Linked DNA regions of Homo sapiens: region 2 is linked to region 1. The links come from fine-mapping of genetic effects on gene expression. Tissue or cell type: nasal epithelium. Region 1 holds a variant in brackets; the other region holds the start of a gene. All regions are shown on one strand. Distances are from middle to middle.

Region 1 (8,105 bases):
GAGACTTTCAAATAAAAAATAAAAAATAGGCCGGGTGAGGTGGCTCACGCCTGTAATCCCAACACTTTGGGAGGCCAAGGTGGATGGATCATGAGGTCAGGAGTTCAAGATCAGCCTGGCCAACATGGTGAAACCCCATCTCTACTAAAAACTACAAAAATTAGCCAGGCATGGTGGCAAGCGCCTATAGTCCAGTCCCAGCTACTCGGGGAGCTGAGGCAGAAGAATCGCTTGAACCTGGGAGGTGGAGGCTGCAGTGAGCTGTGATCGCATCACTGCACTCCAGCCTGGGTGACAGGGCAAGTCTCCGTCTCAAAAAATAAATAAATAAAAAAAAATAAAAATAAAAAATAATTTTTAAAATCAAAATTAACATGACTATATATGATGTAGAAATCTTTTCCTTAGGTTTATAAACATGCTCTGGAGACAATTTACAAAAATGTTTTAAATAATGATTATGTTGTTGGAATAAGTATAGAACTTTTCAAGGCAGCCATTCTAATAGGAAATATCTATTTTCATGTAGAAGTTACTTTAGGTTTACAAAAAATTAATTTTATTTACATAAAGCACTCAGTAGAGTAGCACATGGTAAGTGCTCAATAGATGATAGTTGCTATTATTATGTCATCTACATACCACATGTGCTTTCCCCAAAAGAGGAATGGTGGTAGGGTGACAAGGTAAGCAATTCTCTGAAATCTGCCACAAACGGCTCTTTAGCTCTTGGACTTCTAGGATTCACCAGAGCTGTGCATATATGTTAGATGAATGAAACAAAAGGGGTTTGACCCTGTAATGGATTTTTAATGACAACTCAATGAATAATCAGCCCCTATTCTCTTTCTCCCAGCCCCCTCCCTTTTGTTACCTCCTTTTCTTTTTCATTCAGCTTCTCTGTGCCAGGGAGGCCAGTGAGGTTCAAGGGTGGTGCACTCCGTCTACCTATAGACAGAGAAAGGAAACAGCATAGATTTAATAGGAGTGACAATTTCTCAGGTGTAAAGTATTAAAAAGTTCAGTGCAGCCAGGCCAGTTAGGTATAGGATCACTATATCCAGCTTAGGAAATCCTGTCCCATTCCCTCAGGCCTGTTTAGCTAACAACATGGGCACCCGAACATTCACTTGAAAATGAATTACATATTCAGGGCACATGAATTACCCATAATCTGCTAAAATACACATACAGTCACACATACCTTAGCATCAAATGTAACTACTCACCACAGTAGTTATCTCTTATTTATTATTATTATTTTTGAGACAGGGTCTCACTCTGTTGCTCAGGCTGGAGTGCAGTGTTGCGATCATAGCTCACTATAGCCTCAATCTCCCTGGCTCAAGTGATCCTCCTGCCTCAGCCTCCCAACTACCTGGGAAGACAGGCATATGCCACCATGCCCGACTATCACCTATTTCTTCCTAACCATGTAGGAGACTCTAAAATCTGATGCCCAGATGTCATCCAGTTAAGAAACATCACACAATGCCTGCTTTGACAGCTGACGAATGGAAATAATAACTGCAGAACAGACATTCCCTAATCCTTGCCACTCGGCCAGCAGTACAAGGCAAACATGGTAATTAACCAAGTACTGTGTGCCTTCAGATCAAAGAAAGACTGTTAGGCCAGCAAAAGGCCCTTCTTTTTTATTATGTGAGGGAATATCTGTTCCTTCCAAAGTAGCCCTGTTTACCTGCAAGATCCACAAACAGGAACAATGAGCCATTATATGGCAAAGCAGGGGCTGAGGTCAACTCACACACCTGAGAAAGAAACCCAAGTAGGAGGTCACTGGCCAGGAGGGGAAGCTTGATGAGCAAAACTTTTTTGGTTTTGTTTTGAATGTGTATTAGGGATTGGTATTCAGCTGGGAATGGATAGACTGAGTTAAGCAAAGAAAATGTCGAAGTTTTATAGAGGTTGCTTTTCAAGTGGGGCAGAGAAAGGGGAGGGACTGTTACAAGCTCCACTGGTGGAAAACAGGCTTCTCTGTTACATCAACAAAAGGCATAAGGGATTATTCCAAATCCTCAAAAAGGGAGATAAAACCATTTGGTTCCTCACAAAAGTCACCAGAGGCTAGGCTACAATCAAAGATGCCAGGCTTCCAATACATAGTTGCCTTAAGAACTCAGAACATAAAGGAGAGCAAGAGATCTCCTCAGCCTAAATATAAGGGGTGAGAAAGGCTAACACAGGCTAGGAACAAACAATGAACAAGAGGCCGGGTGCAGAGGCTCACACCTGTAATCTGAGCACTTTGGGAGGCTGAAGCAGGAGGATCACTTGAGCCCAGGAGTTCAAGACCAACCTGGGTGATATAGTAAGACCTTGTTTCTACCAAAAAAAAAAAAAAAAAAAAAAAAATTTCTCCAGGTTTGGTGGCATTCACCTGTAGTCCCAGCCACTCAGGAGCTGAACTGGGAGGATCACTTAGGCCTGGGAGTTTGAGGCTACAGTGAGCCATGATCACATACTGCACTCCAGCCTGGATAGTAGAGGGAGACCCTGTCTCACAAAAAAAGAAAAAAGAAACAATGAACAAGTCAGTGCAGATAGTACAGAGAACAAAAATATATGATCATGTTAGCCAGTTCCTTCATTTAATTTAATTAATTAATTTATTTATTTTTTGAGATGGTCTTAACTCTGTCACCCAGGCTGGAGTGCAATGGTGCGATCTTGGCTCACTGAAACCTCTGCCTCCCGGATTCAAGCGATTCTCCTGCCTCAGCCTCTGGAGTAGCTGGGATTACAGATGTGTACCACCACACCCAGCTAATTTTTATATTTTTTTTTCAGGAGAGATGGGTTTTCATCACGTTGGTCAGGCTGGTCTCAAACTCCCAACCTCAGGTGATCTGCCCGCCTCAGCCTCTCAAAGTGCTGGGATTACAGGCATGAGCCACTGCACCTGACCCAGTTCCTTCATTTTAATTAGCCAGTATTAACTTAGTTGTATTTAGATTTTGGGGGTAGAGTGTTGGCAGTAAGAAACTTACAAAATAAAACTTTGATTTCACTGTCTTAGCCACTCCCCTAAAACAATACCTTTTTCTTCTTTCCATATTAAGAAAAAATCACTTGAAATAAAGGAATAAATGGGGGAAAAAAAAAAGTCCCTTCAGTGACCAGGCGCAGTGGCTCATGCCTGTAATCCCAGCACTTTGGGAGGCCGAGGCAGGCAGATCACCTGAGGTCAGCAGTTCGAGACCAGCCTGGCCAGCATGGCGAAACCCCATCTCTACTGAAAGTACAAAAATCAGCTGGGCATAGTGGCAGGCGCCTCTAATCCCAGCTACTTGGGAGGCTGAGGCAGGAGAATCGCTTGAATCCGGAAGGCAGAGGTTGCAGTGAGCCAAGATCGCGTCACTGCACTCCAGCCTGGGTGACAGAGCGAGACTCCATCTCAAAAAAAAAAAAGTCCCTAACGCGGACAAATCTGAGACCCAGATTCTGAATCTACTGAGACATACCTCCCCCAATTCCCAGTCATCGATTACCAATCACCAAGGATCATCAGATAGCGTATGGCTTAATCTTGCTCTGTATACTAATTTCAAAATAGGACATACTCAAAGAGGTAAAACGAAGAAATAGAAATACTTTAGGTCTCTAACTCAGAAATCCTTATGTTTCTGGCAAGTAACATGCTTCTTTGCTCATGTTATATAAAAATAAAAAGTTTAGGCTGGGCACGGTGGCTCACGCCTGTAATTCCAGCACTTTGGGAGGCCGTGGTGGGTGCCTCACTTGAGGTCAGGAGTTCGAGACCAGCCTGGCCAACATGGCAAAACCGTCCCTACCAAAAATACAAAAATTAGCCAGGCGTGGTGGTGCATGCCTGTAATCCCAGCTGTTCGGGAGGCTGGGGCAGAAGAATCACTTGAACC[C/T]GGGAAGCGGAGGTTGCAGTGAGCCGAGATCACACCACTGCACTCCAGCCTGGGCGACAGACCGAGACTCTGTCTCAAAAAATAAGTAAATAAATAAAAAATAATAAAATAAAAAGCTTTTAATTTATCTCCTGTGAAATAAGTCTCAAAATTAGTGGTAGACACAACTGCAGTAAACTAACTGCTCATGAACATTGGTAAAATAAAGAAGTTACCTCTCTGAAGTTCTTTTTTCCCCTGTCTCTATACTGTCTATACTCTATACTGTCACTCTGAGGATAGTCTCTGTCTGGCCATGAAGGTTCTGAAAACATACTGATGTTTATATATTGGGCTAACACTTGATTACTGTTACTCTGCCTAAGCACCCTGACACCACAGAGGAAGGAAGATTGCTGGGTCACTATAACCCCTACGATGCAAACTTCACAATTAAGACTTGTTCTGGCCTGAGAAATAATTACCTGAATTCGAAGCCATTGGAATGGAAGGACTCAGGCCGGAATCACTACAACGAAGAAGAGGAATTTAAACTTAGGTCATATCAAACAAGGTGATTTCCAAAAGCCCCGGTGAGACTGGGTGCCATTTATCAGGTAGGTCACCTTGAAGAAGTGTAATGAGATAGACTGAACTATGTTTTACAGATATCTCACTGTATTGAGCAGGAAAGAAAATCTGTTCTGAGGAAGAAAAATTCCTCAGATTTGTTAAGAAGAGCTTGTAATCTAGAACACCACTAACACCACTCAAGGGGAAGGGATACAAACATGATTCCCCAGTGAAAATCTAGGTATGAAGAGAGAGTTGAAGTCATGGGTAGAAGGCTGGGGGAAAATACACTCATTTTAAAAAATAGGATCAAAGTAGTAAAGTATGATTCTAGGAGGTCAGTTATTTCTCAAAACTGTCAGTATGGCACTGTTTCTGAGATGGACTGCTAAAATATTTCTGAATTCTTCCAGCTACTCAATTATTATTACTCTGCCATCTAGGGTGCCCAAAAATATATGTGAAGGCCAAGGCATCCCAGAAAGAATGCCTCCTTCACCCTGGAGTAATTACTCACATGTCAGCTTGCCGGCGGAGCCACTGCTGGCAAGCACTACTGTCCTGGATATACTGGAGAACTTCTGAGAGCATAGTGCGTTTAAGGCGCTCTTCCTCCCGTGTCTTCTTGAGGTGATCGTAGGTTCTGGCACCTGGGGGTATAGAAAACACAATGACCACAATGACAATGCAGCAGAACTGAAGGGCTTCCTAACTGACCAAGAAACCGGTTTTGGGTTTTGTTCTTAAAGTCTGTTTCCTTTGCAAAACTGCTTTCACAATTATTTCTCCAAGACCCAAGTAGATTTTCCCTAGTCTGAAATCCTTTTCTTAATACTAAGTATTAAATATTAAACATTTGTATTCCTTTTCTATCTGTAAGAAATAAGGGGAAAAAAACCAACAGAAAAGTACAAAGAAAGTAAGAATTGCTCATATTTCCACTCTCAAAAAGTAACCAACTTTTACTATAGTCATATTTGCTTCCTGTTTTTTCTATTTTTATAAATTTTTTCAAAGTCACACAAGTGCTATAAGCATATGCCTTTCCTTAAAAAACAATTAGAATTACAAAAAAAGAGTTCTCTTTGACATGTAGTACCTCTTCTCCATATTTCTTAGAGGCAGCCAATATCAGGAAACCAAAATTAGTTATCAGAGTCTCTATATGCATCTTGCTAAACAGAAGAGCTGCGTGGTGTTTTCTACATGTTAACAAAGGTTCACAGATTCCAAAATACTGCACCAGTGGGTTTCAAAATTCAAACTAGGTTCCACAGAGCCCCAGGATACCACAAGAGTATCTTAGAGGTTAATGTAAAGAGAAAGGGCACTGCCAGATACCGGCGGGTCCTGGGCTCTACACATAAATTGAACCATTAAAGTTCAACCAAAGTAATTCCACTTTTATCTTTTTTTGAGACGGAGTTTCGCTCTTGTTGCCCAGGCTTGAGTGCAATGGCGCGATCTCGGCTCACAGCAACCTCCACCTCCCAGGTTCAAGCCATTCTCCTGCCTCAGCCTCCGGAGTAGCTGGGATTACAGGCATGCGCCACCATGCCCAGCTAATTTTGTATTTTTAGTAGACACGGGGTTTCTCCATGTTGGTCAGGCTGGTCTTGAACTCTGGACCTCAAGTGATCCGCCCGCCTCGGCCTCCCAAAGTGCTGGGATTACAGGTGTGAGCCACCGTGCCCAGCCCACTTTTATCTTATTTGTAGATTGGGGCTCACACAAAATTTAATTTCAAAAATGGTTTCCACTGTTAAAGAGCCATTATACTAGGCTGAACTTACATCCATAAGGCTATGTTGCACCCACAGGGCTGTGTTAAGAAGCCAACTATTGCCGGGCGTGGTGGCTCACACCTGTAATCCCAGCGCTTTGGGAGGCTGAGGTGGGTGGATCACCTGAGGTCAGGAGTTCGAGATCAGCCTGACCAACATGGATAAACCCCATCTCTACTAAAAATACAAAAAAAAAAATTAGCCGGGTATGGTGGTGCATGACTGTAGTCCCAGCTACTCAGGAGGCTGAGGCAGGAGACTCGCTTGAACCTAGAAGGCAGAGGTTGTGGTGAACCAAGATGGCACCACTGAACTCCAGCCTGCGCAACAGAGCCAGACTCCGTCTCAAATAAAAAAAAAAAAGAAGCCAACTATTTCTTATAGATAGTAGGTGACAACTATCAATAATCACAAAAACTTCAAATAGGAAGAAGGAGGGAATGCTAAAGATCATTTCAACAATGACAGCAAAACAACAGAAACTGCCATTTATTGAGGAATTATTGTGTGCCAGATACTGTGCTATGCTTATATGCAGTATCTCTAATTAAATCTTTACACTAACTCTAAGAACCTTAGAAAATTAAAACTTGAATAGAGGCCAGGCACAGTTGCTCACACCTGTAATCCCAGCACTCTGAGAGGCCTAGGCGGGAGGACTGCTTGAGGCCAGGAGTTTGAGACCAGCCTGGGCAACATAGCAAGAGTCAGTCTCTAGGGAAAAAAAAAAAAGGAAAGAAAAATAAATTTGGATAGAATCACATCACAGAGCTGGCAAGCTGGAGAGCCAAAATTTATACTCAAGCTTTTTAAGTCTAGACCCAAGCTCTTAACTACTATAATACACTATCTCTTATGACCTGGTTCTAGTACTAACTAGCTCTGTAACCTCTTTATACCTTAATTTCTTCACTAAATGGAAGTAACGGTACTTTATAAGTTTGTCATGAGAATTCATTGACTTGATCCAAGTGAAATGGTTAGCATAGAGACTGGTACATGGTAAATATCTGATAGATGTTAGCTGCTAATAATATAATTATTGTCACTACCCCAAGTAACTGGGATGCAAGCACCTGGAGCCAGTTGAAGCTTCATTATTTTATAAAAATGCTAAGACCATGTATCATTAAATTTGAAAAGGGTGACACACCTAAAATATAAAATTCCTTTTTTTTTTTTTTGAAACAGAATCTCCCTCTGCCACCCAGGCTGGAGTACAGTGGCACCATCTTGGCTCACTACAACAACTGCTTCTCAGGTTCAAGCGATTCTTGTGCCTCAGCCTCCCGAGTAGTTGGGATTAAACGTGTGCACCACAACGCCTGGCTAGTTTTTTTATTTTTAGTAGAGGTAGGGTTTCACCATGTTGGTCAGGCTGGTCTCGAACTCCTGGACTGAAGTGACCCACCTGCCTTGGCCTCCCAAAGTGCTGGGATTACAGGTGTGAGCCACTGCACCCGGCCCAAGATTCCCTTTTTTTAAAGAGCCTCGGCAGAATCCTAAATCTAAAGCAGCACCTCTCTTTCCTTTGTCTCACAACTTTTGTAGTACCAAAGATAATCTATACAAAGGTATTTATAGGGATTAAATAGCCAAAACTTTACTGGAAAGGTTTAAAGCATTCTGGTAAAGGAAAGCTTGTTTTTTAAAAAAAAATTCACAACAATTCAGAGACTTCCTCTGTGTGTCTGGAAGATACTTGCCCTCAAGTACGGTATGTAGCTGAAGCATACTTACTACAAAAATTGGTAATGCCTGCTGTCCTGTATTCTTGGAGCCTCTTGATTTCCCTTCGGAGTTCAAATTCCACTGTTTTCCCCAAAAGGAATGAAGGAAAAAATTACAAAAACAAAAGCAACATTAG
Region 2 (8,100 bases), 64 kb after region 1:
CAATGGGTAATCAATATGTATTAATTGATTTTATTTTGATACTCATAATTCCCTTAGAATCAGAGTCAAAGGGCTTTATTGCCTAACTTCATCGTTTATTTTTCTTCCTTGATCAACTTCCACTCTAGTTTGCTATTAATAGTCACCTGAAGGCCGGGAGTGGTGGCTCACACCTGTAATCCCAGCACTTTGGGAGGCCGAGGTGGGTGGATCACCTGAGGTCGGGAGTTCAAGACCAGTCTGGCCAACATGGTAAAACCCTATCTCTACTAAAAATAAAAATAAAAAAAATTAGCTGTGTGTGGTGGTGCGCGCCTGTAGTCCTAGCTACTCAGGCGGCTGAGGCAGGAGAACCGTTTAAAGCCGGGAGGCAGAAGTTGCAGTGAGCCAACATCATGCCACTGTACCCCAGCCTGGGCAACAGAGGGAGAGTCCATCTCAAAAAAAAAATAATAATAAGTCACCTGAGACTTGTTCCCACTGTACTTACTGCTAAAGGAACCCAAACGGTCCATTCCCTAATTGGCAACGAGTGCTGCTTTGGTCTTCCTCAGCAGAGCTTCTTCAAGACTTCAGAACCGGCCAACACATACACCAAAGCTTGATGACTCCCTAGGAACAAACAAAAGTGGCACATGGATCAGAAAATCATTCAAAGGGACAAGATAAAGAGAAGATATGCAACATACTCAGCTCTGCCACATCTTAGCTTTGTAATGTTGAAAAATTATTCCACCTCTGAAAACCTGTTTCTTCCTCTGTAGTGGGTATAACAGTGCCTACCTTCCAAAGTTGTGAGAATTAAATGTTATAATCAAATATCATAATCCATATAAGTAATGTAGCATGGTACCTGGTCCTCTATAAATGCTACATATTTTTCTTTTTTATGAGGAAGGATCTGGGTCTATGGGGCACTGAGGGTGGCAGGGGCAAATGCTACATATTTCTAATAAACAACTGTTGGCTTTCTCTACTCAGCATCATTTCTCTCCTTAGCTGCCATCTTTATTTGGGAAACTGACCCTCCCACATTTCATGTGATACTGGTGGGGCTGCCAATCACAATACCCCATTCCCCACCCCTGACAAAAGCTAAAGCAACCAGGTCTCTTCTTCCAGAAATCTGGATCTTGAGTAAGACATGAAAGGACAGAAGGCAGTTGGAGCTTAGTTATTCACTAGAATTCATTCAAAGAATTCAGTCCATGTGCTCTGGCTGTTGAAATCCCTAGCCCCAGGTGGCTCAACTGTTTAACTCTTCTCTCATTTCTCTCTCTTTAATAAACTTTAATAAACTCAACTTTAATCATAAGACTGAACGAGTTTCTGTAACTGGAAACCAAAAAATCCTATCTATTACAACATACATTTGTTCCTCACTCTTTCAACAAGTACGTAACAGGGCCAGGCACAGTGGCTCATGCCTGTAATCCCAGCACTCTGGGAGGCTGACGTGGGAGGATTACTGGGACCCAGGAGTTCAAGACCAGCCTGGGCAACATAGGGAGACCCCATCTCTTAAAAAAAAAAAAAAAAAGTTAGCCGGGTACAGTGGCCCATGCTTATGGTTCCAGCTACTCAGGAGGATGAGGTGGAACGCTTGGGCCTAGGAGGTCGAGGATGCAGTGAGCCACCACTGCACTCCAGCTTGGAGGACAGACTAAGTCTCTTTTTCTTTTTTTTTTGGAGACACAGTCTGGCTCTGTTGCCCAGGCTGGAGTACTCATTGCAACCTCTGCCTCCCAGGTTCAAGGGATTCTCATTCTCCATTTGGTTCTCATTTTTGATTCTTGTGTCTTGTGCCTCAGCCTCCTGAGAAGCTGGGATTACAAGCATGTGCCACCACCATACCTGGCTAATTGTTTTGTATTTTTAGGAGAGACAGGGTTTCACCATGTTGGCCAGGCTGGTCTCGAACTCTTGGCCTCAAGTGATCCGCCCACCTCGGCCTCCAAAAGTGCTGGAGTGCTGGGATTACAAGTGTGAGCCACCATGCCTGGCCCAAAGTATCTTCTTTGAAGCAGAAATAAAATAATATTTTACACTAAGTCAAAAAATAATCCTTCTTCTGTACACTCACAGCTTTTTGTTTTTGTTTTTGTTTTTTTTTGAGACTAAGTCTCGCTCTCGTTGCCTAGGCTGGAATGCAATGGCACGATCTCAGCTCACTGCAACTTCCGCCTCCCGGGTTCAAGCGAGTCTCCTGCCTCAGCCTCCCAATTAGCTGGGATTACAGGCGCGGGCCACCAGGCCTGGCTAATTTTTGTATTTTTAGTAGAGACGGGGTTTCACCATGTTGGCCAGGCTGGTCTCGAACTCCTGACCTCAGGCGATCTGCCCACCTCAGCCTCCCCAAGTGCTGGGATTACAGGCATGAGCCACCGCACCCGGCCCACTCACAGCTTTTTATCTGGCATTTTTCACATTCTACTTTGTGAGTATTACTTCTGAATGTCTATTTTCCCCCACTTCTAAATTAAGTGAAAGCAGGCTGGGTGTGGTAGCTCATGTCTGTAACTCCAGCACTTTGGGAGACTGAGGCAGATGAATCTCCAGAGGTCAGGAGTTTCAGACCAGCCTGGGCAACATAGTGAGAACCCCGTCTCTACCAAAAATACAAAAAAATTTGCTTGGCGTGGTGGCGGGCGCCTATAATCCCAGCTACTCGGGAGGCTGAGGCATGAGAGTTGCTTGAACCAGGCAGGTGGAGGTTGCAGTGAGCCGAGATTGTGCCACTGCACTCCAGCCTGGGCGACAGTGCAAGATCCTGTCTCAAAAATAAATAATAAATAAGTGAAAGCAGAGACTATATCGGATACCTATCTGTATGCTTTTAAAATGCCAAGCATACAGGAGGAATACAATAAACACATAGTAGTGGACTAATAAATGTTAATTCTACAAAAGGTTAATTTATCTTTAGCTTTTCTGAAGTGATTTTTTTCACCCTGGTAATTTTTAGCTTGGAGAATAATTCATCACTAAGTGTGGGCAACATTTCTGCTAACGCTGCCATCAAAGAACTTTCCCTTTTTGGGGTGGGGTAGGTCTCCCTTTGCTGTCCTCTCAGGAAAAGTTGAGCTCTGAAGAAAAATGAGTCTAGCAAGGGTGTATTACGAACGCAGCAATCAAATAACTGCCAAATTTACTGAACTTTTTCAATTTGCTAGGTACCCGTGGGTACCAAGGTGTGGGGATTCTTTGAATCCTCACTCCCACACTTTTGGGGCAAGCTGCTTTTTCAAAAGCAAGCAAGCTCTGAAAGAGTATGTTACTTGCGCAGTGTCTTACAAGGGATAGCTGTGTCATTTCAAATACAGATGTCAAGGCTGGACGCAGTGGCTCACGCCTGTAATCCCAGCACTTTAGCAGGCCGAGGCAGGCAGATCACCTGAAGTCGGCAGTTCGAGATCAGCCTGACCAACATGTAGAAACCCTGTCTCTACTAAAAATACAAAATTAGCTGGGCGTGGTGGCGTATGCCTGTAATCCAGCTACTTGGGAGGCTGAGGCAAGAGAACTGCTTGAACCCGGGAGGTGGAGGTTGCGGTGGGCTGAGAACGCGCTGTTGCACTCTGGCCTGAGCAACAAGTGTGAAACTCCCTCTCAAAAAACAAAAACAAAAACAGACGTCCAGTAAAGGATGCACAGTCAATAGGGACTGATCAACACTCGAAAAAGCACAGTAGGAGGCCGGGTGCGGTGGCTCACGCCTGTAATCTCAGCACTTTGGGAGTCCCAGGTGGGCAGATAACCTGAGGTCAGGAGTTCGAGATCAACCTGGCCAACACAGCGAAACCCCATCTCTACTAAAAATACAAAAAATAGCCAGGTGTGGTGGCGGGCGCCTGTAATCCCAGGTACTCGGGAGGCTGAGGCAGGAGAATCGCTTGAACCTGGGAGGCAGAAGTTGCAGTGTGTTGAGATGGCGCCATTGCACTCCAGCCTGGGCGAAAGAAACGCCATCTCAAAAAATAAAAAAATAGTAGGGCCGGGCGTGGTGGCTCACGCCTGTAATCCCAGCACTTTGGGAGGCCGAGGCGGAAGGATCACTTGAGGTCAGGAGTTCGAGACCAGCCTGGCCAACATGGTGAAACCCCACCTCTGCTGAAAATACAAATATTAGCTGGGCGTGGTGGCCCACGCCTCAGGCACGAGAATCGCTTGAGCCTGGGAGGCGGAGATTGCAGTGAGCCGCGATCGTGCCACTGCACTGCAGTACAGCCTAGGAGAAAAAAAAAAAAAGGCAAAAAAGCACAATATTGCAGTCTGCAGAATCTTCTTTCTCCCCCTTTCACAAGAGACCACATTCTGACACCAACTTCCGTGGAAACACTGGCGCTAGCTCCAAACTAACAATCGCCAAATTCGAATCAGTTACCGGGAGAAGGAAGTGAGGCACTTCGCCGGGCAGGAGTCCACGTTGGGAGGAGGAAAGGCGCAGGCTCCCGAGTTGTGGAGCCAACGTTCAAATCCTTACGGGGTGGGACCGGCCTGGGCCAGTCATTTTACCTGCGCCTCAGCTCTAACAGGGTACTGAAATACCTACTTTGGGGGGCCTGCTAGGAAATTCAAATGGGCAACGCTGGTCAGGGGCATCTGGCACAGTGGCCATTCTTGGTAGAGCTACGCGCTCCAGGGCTGAGCGGGAAATGGCGAGGCCGGGGCACTGGGGCACCGCCCAGACGCGGGGCGGGCCCCCGGGGTCAGGCCCGGCCCCACACCGCCCTCCCCCACAGAGCGGCGAGGCCCGCCGCTGCCCGCCCGCCGGCCCGCCAGCCTGCCGCGTCAAGCCCGCCGCCGGGGCCCGCAGCCCGCGACTCCTCCCCCGCCGCACCTCGTGGCCCCCGCTTCTCCCTAGTCCCGCTAGAGGGGCTCGCGCTCCGCCACCCGCCCGCCCGCCCGCCCAGCGCTGCCTGGCGCCTCACCTCGCCGAGACCCCCTAATCCGCGCCAAAGAGCCGCCGGTCGCGCGCGCCTCCGGGCTTTGCGTGCGCGCCCCCGGGCGGCGCAGTGGCGAGCGCGCCGCGTGCCGCGCGCCCGCCGCCTCCGCCCCTCGGCCGTGGAGGCCCCCGCCGGGTGCTGAGCGCCCGCCACCGCCCTCTTGGCCTTTTCCCGGTCCCCGCCGCGCGCCTGCTGCTGTCCCCGTGCCCGAGGACTGGGAGGATGGGGCTGAGCCGCTTGCCTGACTTTTGATCCGACCAGTAATCACTTTGCCCGTGTGGCGCGTGGCCCGTTGCCTGAGGCTTCCTGGCGCGTGGGGCTGTTTGGTCCCCTCCGGAGTGCGGTGAGGCGGGCCGAGCCGGGACTGCCTGGGTTTGGGGATAACGTTCCCATCTCCACCCCTGTTGCAGCAAGGGAAATTGAGGCTGAGGGAACTGGGCCCAGGGACGGCGAGCCGTGGCGCCTCTCCAGTCCGGGCCCCGAAGGGCTGCTCGTGGATGAACCAGACTGATTTTAAGGGGTGAAGAGGGTGCGTTTCAATCAGATGCTCCTGGAACGTCGAAATTGTCTTCTTTGGAAAGAACCATCCCCTCTTTGGGCTTCAGAGGCCCAAATTGAGGCGCAATGATGAGAGGATGTGGTGGTCTACTCTGATGTCAATCTTGAGGGCTAGGTATGTCCCAAGATCTCTTATTACTGCTGTTAATGATGATTCTAATAGCTACCATTTGTCGAGTACTTATTGCATGCCAGACATTGCACAAAGCAGGTTACACATACGGTCTCATTTAAAACTTGTGAGGTAGGCACCTGTTGTTATCCCTATTTTCCAGGTGAAGAAATCTAGGCACTGACATAAATAACTTGGGATCACACTGCTAGGAAGTACTGGGGAAGGGAATTCAAACCATGGTTTATCTGAACTATATAACTGTTACATCTATTTAGAAGTCTGCCTTTGATAAATTTGCCCAACCTTTTTTTAGAATTCACTTACACTTTATGCCTGTGTGAACCCTTTCATTCTTTTTTGGTATATGCATAATACAAGTTCATTCCAAAAAAAAAAAAAAAAAAAAGCCCTGCCGGGCGCGGTGGCTCACGCCTGTAATTCCAGCACTTTGGCAGGCCGAGGCGGGCGGATCACAGGGTCTGGAGTTCTAGACCAGCCTGACCAACATGGTGAAATCCCGTCTCTACTAAAAATACAAAAAATTACGCGGGTGTGGTGGCAGGCACCTGTAATCCCAGCTACTCCGGAGGCTGAGGCAGTAGAATCGCTTGAACCCTGGGGGCAGAGGTTACAATGAGCCAAGATCTTGCCATTCCACTCCAGCCTGGGCAACGAGAGCGAAACTCTGTCTCAAAAAGAAAAGAAAAGGAAAGAAAAACCACCTCCCACCAGGTTAAATAAATAATTAACATTTTGGTATGTACCCTTCCAGACATTTTCCTATGCATCACATCAATAAATATATGATAGGATATTTTACATTTGATGTATCCTGAAGATTAATTCAACAAATGTTTAGTGAGTAGGCTTGTTGTAGGTGCTGGGAATTCAGCAGTGAACAAAACAAAGTCTCTGCCTCATGGAGCTCATATTATAGTAGGGAAGACTGTCAATAAGCAATATACACATTACTAAATGATAGATAATGCCCAGTAATGTGGCAAGTTTTATGGAAAAATAAATCAGGATAAAAGGATAAGAGTGATATGGGGATTCTCTTAGTTAGGGTAGATAAGGAAGGCCTCTTAGCTAAGGAGGCACATAAATATCTGATCATTTAATGAGAGAAGGAGCAACATGGATTTCTAGAGGGAAACTATCCTAGAAGAGAAGCAGCAAGTGCAGTGACCCTGAAATGGGGATTTGTTTGGCATGGAGAAAGGGCAAGACCAGTGTGGCTGGAGCACAGCAAATGAGAGAAATTAGATGGAAATCAAGGCAGATCATGTATCATCTGGTAAGGTTTGGATTTTATTGGGAAGTGACAGAATATGACGAAGGGTTGAGAGCAAAGGAGTAGCTTTGCTGTAAAAGGATCACTGTGGGCTGGGAGCGGTGGCTCACACCTGTAATCCCATCACTTTGGGAGGCCGAGGCAGGCGGATCACTTGAGGTTAGAAGTTCGAGACCAGCCTGGTCAACATGGTGAAACCTCATCTCTACTAAAAATACAAAAAAAATTAGCTGGGCATTGTGACGGGCGCCTGTAATCCCAGCTACTCGGGAGGCTGAGGTAGGAGAATCACTTGAACCTGGGAGGTGGAGGTTGCAGTGAGCCAAGATTGTGCCACTACACTCAAGCCTGGGCAACAGAGTGAAACTGCATCTCAAAAAAAAAAAAAAAAAAAAAATCACTGTGGCAGCTGTGTGGAGAATGGATGGTAGAAATATTAAAATTGCCCTTTGCCTGGTGAAGTGGTGTGTACCTGTAATCCCAGCTACTCGAGAGACTGAGGCAGGAGGATGGATTGAGCCCAAGTTTGAGACCAGTCTAGGCAACGTATCGAGACCCCCATCTCTAAAAAAATTTTAAATTGCTCTCTAAGGCATAAATTGTCCTTTTACATGGTAGTTGTTCAACAGATAGTTGATTAACATTAGTGTTTCACCTATAGCTGTACAGCTTTACAACCACTCTCAACTTCACATAGTGGAAGTGGGGTCAGTCATTTAGGACATATCTGTGTCTTTGTCATTGAAACTCAAATTTTGAGACTGGCTAAGGCAAATATCCAGATCTGGATGTCATGATTGTCAACAATGAATATCAGTAATCAGTGTTGTAATACTGTAGAAAAATTAGTCCCACATAATACTGAGATCTAGTCGTTAAAAACATAGCATTCAGGGGCCAGGCACAGTGGCTCATTCCTGTAATCCCAGCAGTTTGGGAGGCCAAGGCAGATGGATCATTTGAGGCCAGTAGTTCAAGATCAGCCTGGGCAACATGGCGAAAACCCATCTCTGCTAAAAATGCAACAATTAGCTGGGTGTGGTGGCGCATGCCTGTAATCCCAGCTTCTTGGGAGGCGCAAGAATTGCTTGAACCCTGGAGGTGGAGGTTGCAGTGAGCTGAAATCGCACCACTGCCCTCCAGCCTGTTCAACAGAGCAAGAGTCTGTCTCAAAAACAAAAAAACAA

The links. PIP is the estimated chance that this variant, and not a neighbour inherited with it, causes the effect.
Region 2: TADA2A starts here. The variant in region 1 is fine-mapped to the expression of TADA2A in nasal epithelium (TOPMed, PIP above 0.99). The same link has a PIP of 0.9 or more in amygdala, cerebral cortex, fibroblasts, hippocampus, hypothalamus and lymphoblastoid cells.

The regions. Positions count from the first base shown.
Region 1 is chr17:37,467,399-37,475,503 of GRCh38, reverse strand. TADA2A (transcriptional adaptor 2A) reads right to left here. Exons shown (of 16, transcript NM_001166105.3): 12 at 7,979-8,050; 13 at 4,972-5,104; 14 at 4,367-4,410; 15 at 875-948. Among named protein-coding and RNA genes, the nearest start is that of DUSP14, 18 kb to the left of the region's middle. The variant C/T (reference allele first, on the strand shown) is at 3,903.
Region 2 is chr17:37,403,781-37,411,880 of GRCh38, reverse strand. It overlaps TADA2A (transcriptional adaptor 2A), which reads right to left and starts at 4,995. Exons shown (of 16, transcript NM_001166105.3): 1 at 4,932-4,995; 2 at 491-612. The coding sequence starts at 515. ACACA (acetyl-CoA carboxylase alpha) reads left to right here and starts at 5,045. Exons shown (of 56, transcript NM_198834.3): 1 at 5,045-5,619. The coding sequence starts at 5,582. RefSeq lists an enhancer at 3,179-3,863.